Linked DNA regions of Homo sapiens. The protein of the gene in region 2 purifies or fractionates together with the protein of the main gene of each other region. This does not show direct contact. Each region holds a gene or a part of one and is shown on either strand. Other genes may lie near its edges.

Region 1 (3,916 bases), on a different chromosome or scaffold from region 2:
ATTTCCCTGGGCTTCCTGGGAGACTTTGGTTCTGGGAGGTGAGACCAAGGGAGGTGGAGTTGCCCTTGAGGCCAGAGCCTTGACTGTCAACACCACCAACACAGGGAGCCAGGGCTTGAAGATCCAGGCAGAGTGGTGATAACGGAAACAAAGGCCGGCAGTGCCTCTCCTCATGGAACAACTCCTCCAGCTTTCCCAGCTCTGCCCTTCAACTTACTAAGAAAATATGCTGAATGCCTTTCAGAGTGAGAGAGCATCAGACTGAGATTCTGATTTAAAAAACAAGCACAGATAAAGCACAAAGGAAATCTTCTCGAAACAAAGCCTATAATGGTAAATATGTTCAGAATAGCTTTTCTCCTGTAACATCGTGACCTGCATCTAAGCATCTAATAGCCTCCACCCATGCCCTTGCAGCAAGAATCAGAATATTTGTTCCTGTTTTAAAGGCACAAATGGTCCTAAGAGCAGATTTTCAAAAATGGGAGGAACAATAGCTCCAATGGACCAATTGCAGCATGCAGATATCTTGACCTTTGCAGGTGGTGTAGAATGATGTGGTGCCTACATATCTTTTGGCATCTACTCTTTCGAGATGCTACCTCCCCACTCCTCTTGCCTTATCAGTCTTCCATCACAAGCCAGACTAACTGAAATTCTCAACAATTTCCAACCTAGAGAGGGCGATAATCTGACGGCATGTACATTGGTTCCAGACAACTAGGGCAAGACACATTCCTCCCTGAAAGCACCCCCTTGGTCAGGCTCATCATTTATTCGTCACTAGATGTAGCTTTACTGCCAAAAGACCTACTCTTGTTTATTCCCCTCCCTCTCTACTATTTATAGTTGGTCTAACTTTTTACAAGCTTTGAATAAAACAGAGAATGTGACCTAAGATGTGTTATTAAATGTCCATACACATAAGATGGGGGAACAGAGAGTCACAGATGGTGACAACATGGGTAAAAATTCCTATCTACTTGGAATAAGGGCAGAATCAAATTTTACTCTAGTTTCATTGAGATGACACTGAAATGTCAGTAGCAACAGGCACATTCAAGTGTACCCTTCTTCCAAGCAGATCAGGCCAAGCAATTCTGGCCATTGGGACGTCCATTATACTGCTCACCTGGAAAAGGCAGCGCCCAGCACAAACGCAGCATACTCCTTCACGAGGGGCTCTGTGCTGTTCAGCCCATTGATCACCACTTGAAGACCACCAAAGGAAAGCAGGTCCTGCGCATTGTCCATCTGCAACAGAGCCACTGCTTAGTACAGCATAGCCATCAGGGACAGGAAAGCTGTTCTTAGAGCCTTTCTTTTGGTGACTACCCAAAAACAAATTAAAAAGCCATGGAAAAATCAATAATGGCCTTTTTGACTAAGAAAAGGTTTGTAAAAACCAATTTTTTAATACTCTTAAATTTGAGAACTCCTAATTCATCTAACACGATTGATGAGCACCTGCGTGGGAATCAGCAGAAATGACACCTAGCTATTGCTTATGCCAAACATGTCCTGGAAAATTCTAATATCATAATGAGTCACAAAGCTTGCTCCTAATGTACAAGCTGTTAACACAAAGAATCTGGCGTCATCAGCACCACTAAATGGTGCCATGCTTCCTGCTGATGTCCAATCCCAATGGGGACAGTGGAGGCAGATTTTTAAAGCTGATTTTAAATTAGAAGCTAGGGACTATAAAAGGAGCCCTGTTATTGGGAGGGGGGTTGCCGTAAGAGTGCTGGGGAGGGGGGAATAACAATAGTACCTTTCTCTTGCATCTCAGGTTGACTGCATCTGAAGACATTCATGATAAAATATGCAAGAAAATCGCTCTCCCAAAGGTTTCTGTCTAAGCCTGTGCTACTGGCTAGTGGCTATGTATCAGACAGTGCAGAACATTTCTATCATTACATAAAGTTCTATTCAACAGCATTGGTCTAGGCTATCATTTAAGCTCCAAATCCCCAAGTCCGGATTCTCTCTTTTACTCTATAGCGGATCTCATTACCCACAGTTTATTAGTACCCTGGAACAAGACAACTCGCTTTCCTCAGAAAGGTCACTGGATCCTGTTTTCTACATGTACCCGCTACAGTCTCCCTCGAATATATCTTTGTTGCCACAAAGGCTGCATCTTGCCCATATGCTAATCCCACGCTATCAATCATGAGGAAAACTCAGGAAGCTGAAGCCCAACAACTGTGGCTGCTACCCATCTTTCTCCTCCAGATTCCACAGGGCCCCTTCCCAACTGCATCCTTGCCTCTCTGAACTAGGAGAGGACTCTGACAGAGAAATCAAGTGTGAGGATTGGTATTTGACTGTGCTAGTGTTTTGTGGTGGCCTAGCCTGTTGTTGCCACTTGAAAAATCATATTCATACACATTTGGATGGAATCTCCATGACAGCAGGGGTTTTGTCTGTCTGTCCACGCTTGTAGCTCCAGGGACTAGGATGGTGCTGAGCATATGGTTAGGTGTTCAATGAATAACTGTTGCATTAATGAGTATGAATTTGATCAGAAAAGAATGTTCCTGAAATAAAGCTCCAGTGTGAATAAAAAGGCAATCTGGGGTATCTGTGCCAACAAAATGAATGGGCCTCTGGTACCGCAGACATGAAGTAATGGCTAAACCAGGTTGTGAAGTAAGCATGAAGTCTGCTCTGCCATGTGGCCCCAGGCCATGGACATTTTTCTGCCCCAAACTGTTCTTATGAAGAGGAATAACTGGTTGAGCCACAGCCCAGCTAACTAGGGAGACTCAGGGTTGGGTGCTTTGCTGACATAAGCACCTTCCTTCCTTCCCTACATGCTCTAATTTTACAATGTAAGAATTCACTACCTATTCTTTGGTTGTCCTTCCTCTGGGTTTTCTGGATACAAAACTATGGCTCAGAATCCTGTCATACCACGCCTGGAATGGCCACTTATAAAGCTGGTATGAGTTCCTAGCAGAGCAGCTGCCACTCGGTCAGCTCCAAAGCAACACAGCCCAGAATCATGGACCTTCTGTTCTAGAGTCAGTTTATCTACTATTACTACAATGATAATTCAGCATGATAGAAATGCAGACATTTATATAAGCACTTCAGCCTTTTTGGGATGTTTTCTCATGGTTTACTTCACTAACAGTGAGGAAGAAACGATTCATTCTGCCCAGTGCACATCAAAAGCTGGGCCCCCCCCTGGTGACATACAGGAGAAACCATGACCATAGCCCAGGTCCACAGCTCCCCATCTCGGTCTGGGGCCAAAACTGTTCTCAGGCTGCCTTCGGGGTGGGGTGGGACAGGCAGAGAGGAAGAGGAGGAGGGAGTGCAGGAGGGAACTATGCCAACACCCTGGAGGAAAGGAAAGAAGCAGGGCACTGATAAGACAATGAGAGAATGGGAAACAGCGAAGGGGAAAAATGGTGGCACACAGCTGAGGAGACACGTGGGAGAAGGCAAATGTACTGCCCGAGGTAGATGGGGCGGACGGAGGCCGCTCCTCATAAATAACTCACCATCTGTTTCCACACACAAGGTTTTGCTTTTCACATATCCTGTTTAATAATTCAAATATGGCTGTGAGGAAGCCTGGCAGACCTGGTTTGGGTCCTTGGAGCCTACAGCTCCTCAAACCACCATTCAGTGAGTCTGGAATGAGAAAGGACTGGGGAAGTTCCTGGCTAGGAAAGTGCCATCTTCCTTAAAACTAGTACTACATCACCCCAAGCCCCCATCACAACTGGGACTCGGGCCGAGTTGTGTCTTACTTAATCCCCCAGTGAAATCACAGCTTAACATTGCTGCATGGCAGCCTGATGCACCAGCCCTTCCAGTCAAAACACCAATGATCCAGAACATTTCTCTGCCAACAGACAAATTTGGCTTCTGCCAGGGACTGATTTTGGGATGACCTCAG
Region 2 (4,660 bases):
CATCTTATTTTGCTAAAATACAATTCTGTACCTTTGACAGGATGTTTTCCTTTAAGGTGATTTTAATACAGCTCTCTGTATTATGTGTGGTAATAACAGTGTCTTTGACAGCCCTTTGTTTAGTTACTTTAATAATGAAAGCACTTCCAATCGTGAAGTATATCCAAGTCAGTTGCTCTTCACACTATGTTCTGCATTTTAGTGAATTAAGTAAGCTAGTGGAGTTGCATTCTGGAAAGTAACGTGAATTTATTTATCTTAAATTTATGTCCTGTTGTTGTTATAAAATCGCCTATTCACATATCATAACTATTGTAGCCCTGCAGTTACTAGAGCACCTAAGAAAAGAGTTTGGAATACACTGATAGGCCACTTATTGTGTGCCAGACACTTTTATTAGTCTGTTTATTTGATTGTTTCTTCTTTTATAACCACAAGTACACAAGGTTGAGGTCATCACATGCTCTGGTTCTTGGCATAAGCCATGACTGGATTAGAAGGCCATTCTCTTCTTTACTTATGGCCTTTGACCCAGTTCATTTCCTTTCTTCTCCACCACCATAGACACCACTTATAATTTGTTTAAAGCATATTCTTTTATGTATATGTGCTCCTGTAAAACATTGATTTCTTTATCTTACGCATTTTTAAATTTTCATAAATGAAGTTATGTTAGATAATACTTAACATCAGCTTTGGGAGGCGGAGGCAGGTGGATCCCTTGAGCCCAGGAGTTTGAAGCCAGCCTGGGCAACGTGGCGAAAACCCCGTCTCTACAAAAAAATTAAAAACATAGCCAGTCACAGTGGCACACACTTGCAGTCTCAGCTACTCAGGAGGCTAAGGTGGGAGGATTGCTTCAGCCCAGGAGGTCAAGGCTGCTGTGAGCAGTGACTGCACCACTGTACTCCAGGCTGGGAGACAGAGTAAGACCCTGTCTCAAAACAAAACAAAGAAAAACAAAAAAATACAAGTTTTCACATACTTTTCACCTAGTACTATATTTTTAAGATTCATCCATGTTATTCTGGGAATATAGTCCGTACCTTCTAACTGTTGCATTCTTCTGCTTCCACCATATTAATTTGCCCATTCATTTGCCGATGGCAGATGCCCAAATGGTTTCCTTCCTCATGCCACCACAAACAGTGCCATGATGAATATCAGCACACCTACTCCCTTACACAGCTGTGTGAGAATTTCTTTGTAAAGGAAATGGCCAACTTACAGGGTTCATGTATGTGCCAGTACTATATGTGTATTATTCAGAATCTTGAGTCTTGCAGGGTGAGTGATGATGTTCGCCTCACTTCACAGTTGGATCTTACAGCTCTTCAAGCATTGAACTCATAGTACCAAGAAAGAATACTTCAGGTTCAGGTTTTTCTCAAAAATCATTGGCAATACATAATTATAGTTAATTCAAATGAACTTTGTATTAATGATAGTTTGAATTAGAATAATTCAAATTCTAATCAATAATATTAAAACTCTGTCTTGCCAATAGACATGCTAAATATCAAATGAACTTTGTTTCTTGGCAAGACAGAGTTTTAACTATAGTATTAATGTAGTGCCAAAGTGCACGGGCTTTCCTCATTCATTTTCCAAAATTCTACCTTTCTGTTTGCAGAGATCTTTCACAATGGAGTTTCTATGTTAACCATATATTTAACTAGTTTTATTGACAATTCCCTCTACATCTGGGTGATTGTCTTTTCATGTGCAGAGGTGTGTATGGATGGATTTATAGATTTTGGTTCATTTAATATGTTGGTATTCCTCACTACATTGAACATTCTGTAAGGGCAGAGAAAATTCTTCTGTGAAATTGTCAGTGTCTTCCACATTCACCCAGGAATCAATACTTGTTAGGGAAACCAATATTCTGGATATTTTACAGCTAGTCTAATTAATGTTGCTTAGCCCATTTCAGGGAAGCAGAACTTATGGAAGGCAGAAGTCCCAAGTCACCCAGAATTTTATCAAAGATGCATATGGACCCCCAAAACAGCCCACTCACGTGGTAAGGGAATGTTGGCTGTGTCTTGGAAAAAAAAAATCTTCAAGCAAATGAGTTGTGTCATCTGGAAGTTGTTATGACAGAAACGAAGAAAAGAAGGATATCTGTCACTGTAGCCCTTTGAGGTTGAGAAGAGGGATTTCCAGAAGAGACAACTCTATTTGGGATACGTGTGGAAGGGAACACATCTTATCTTATCTGAAGGGATACTGACACTGAAGGACTGCAACAGACGGAGGGTCTGGTTCTGTCCTTTTGGGGGAAATACATCTCCAAGGGTGGCTAAGACACCAGTATCTTACAGTATGTACCATACCCTGTGTACATTCTTCCCCTTTCACAAGACTCTTCTCTCATGACCACTTATCTAGCACCTACCTCTCTTTCCCTAAATCAGAGCTATTCTTTTACTCTTACTCTCTGCCCTACAACTTTGTGAATTTCACATATGCTCATTCCTAAAAATAGTAGGAATTTCAGAATGTTCACATAAACATAAACCATTATATTTTACCTGCATGTACAGAATACACATATTACTTAGGAGACTAATTTTAAAGCTATAAGAGGAAACTGAGAGGCAGAAAAAGAAAGAAATTGTCTCCAACACATAGCAATTAATAAGGCTAGCATAGTAAGTTAAGATCTTCTAAGGAGCTAAGAAGTGTGTCAATACACAGAGGCCACAGCATGCATGACTAGCTTGTGTTTTGAATGAAGATTAGTAAGTAGAAAATATCAACGGAGTTCCATTTTACTAAACAAAGATCTGAAATCAAGTCAGCCTGCCTCAAAGATTTTTAAATGCACACTATCAATGGCATCCAAGTATGCTAATGTATTTATCAAGGGGTCAGCAAAAGTCATACTCAATTAAATAATAAGTTGCCCCTTCATTTGGTTCATTATGCAACCTGTCCAAATGCCACAGTTTACTCTTATTTATTGTCCCCTTTGACAACAAGCACAGCTGAGATAATAACGTACAGAAACATTTCTCTTACCTTTGTTGCTTTCCAGTAGTGAAGTTCACAGAGTGGCAAGTTAGACTGGAGCTGCGTCCCTCAAAAGGAAATATAAAGCCTTCATATTTTGCCCCTCCCTTTTCATTTGTGCCCTTAGTGATTCAGCTCTTCACCTGCTGGTTGGAAAGTACAGCCCTGAAAATGAAGTCCATCAAGAGCTTCTTTAAATCCCCAGAGCCCAGCATGGTGGCTCATTCCTGTAATCCCAGCACTTTGGAAGGCTGAGGTGGGAGGGTTACTTGAGGCTAGGAGTTTGAGGCCAGCCTGGGCAACATAGTGAGACCCTGATCTCTATTTTAAAAATTAAAAAATAAAAATAAAATTTGTAATGAGATCCCCAGAGACTCCCAAGATGACCAGTGCTTTTCAGAGAAGTGCTCAGTTCTTTTTCTATTTATTTATTTTGAGATGGAGTCTCACAGGCTGGAGTGCAGTGGTGTGATCTCAGCTCACTGCAACCTCTGCCTCCTGGGTTTAAGCAGTTCTCCTGCCTCAGCCTCCTGAGTAGCTGGGATTATAGGTGTGCACCACCACACCCAGCTAATTTTTGTATTTTTAGTGGAGACAGGGTTTCATCATGTTGGTCAGGCTGGTCTCAAACTCCTGACCTCGTGATCCACCTGCCTCAGCCTCCTAAAGTGCTGGGATTACAGGCGTGAACGACCATGCCCGGCCCTGCACCCAGTTCTTAACCTCCTTCTGTTTTACTAAGGGAAAACATTAACAAGCCTGGCCTCTATTCAAGAAAAATACGCTGTCTGTCAAAGAGATTGCCATCAACCCAACAAGTTAGCAGTGCCCTATGCAAAATTCCAGGGATCTCCAGTGTCAGTGCACATGGTGCAAAGCTACTCAGTAGGAAAGATCCCAGCTGTGGCAGATGCTTCCTGGCCTGAGGAACACTCATCCCAAGATCTTCTGGGCTCTCTTGCATGCAGCATATGTTTTTATGTGGAGTTTCAGCAAACTACTAGCAGGTAAATCCTGTCCCACAAAAAAACACAAGAGTTATCGAGTTAGTAATAACTCAAGCAAGAGTTATTCTGTGGTTTCAGTTTAAAAGCTTGGTGGGAGCAAGAAGCCAGCCCTACCTAAAGTGAATTCAGAGGCTGAGTAATGATTCAGGAGCCAGGAAGAAAAATTACAGATTAGAGGTAGGAATGAGAGTTAGAGACAGATCATGTTTGGGGTGTGCAGTAGGCAGAATCAGTATTACGAGAAAAGCCCAGCTTCTCAAAGACCAGTCTTGACCATGCAATCCACAGTCCAGCCTCCCCAGGTTGTTACCCCTGCCAACCAATGATGGCAGACTGTACCGCACTCAAGACAAGAAATTCCTTTATGGCCAGTGATTTTCTCTTCATTTTCAGTGCACAATATTTCTTCTCTTAGTTGAAACTAAACCGTTCTACAAGACAAGAGAACCAGAAAACATGGTTCTAAAATTATAGTCCTAATACCCATTTTGCCCACAAGGTTATCATAAAAATAACTGTACACAACCAATCACACAGAACTAAAAGGGATCCCAAATCTGTCCAGTCTTTTTCTGCTCAGAGCACATGTTTTCTGACATGAATCAATTCCAGCTGGGGGCTTTCAGAGCTTAAAA

The links. The genes of interacting proteins can lie anywhere in the genome.
Region 1: the proteins of SERPINB11 (region 2) and SIL1 purify together in Homo sapiens (affinity purification with mass spectrometry, with the first as the bait; one large-scale study listed by BioGRID). This does not show direct contact.

Annotation. Positions count from the first base shown.
Region 1 is NC_000005.10:139,020,039-139,023,954, forward strand, and holds part of SIL1 (nucleotide exchange factor SIL1 precursor), read right to left. Parts: intron 1,255-3,916; coding exon 1,133-1,254; intron 1-1,132.
Region 2 is NC_000018.10:63,701,374-63,706,033, reverse strand, and holds the start of SERPINB11 (serpin B11), read right to left. Parts: upstream 3,075-4,660; 5' UTR 3,028-3,074; intron 1-3,027. UniProt on the Homo sapiens protein: Has no serine protease inhibitory activity, probably due to variants in the scaffold impairing conformational change.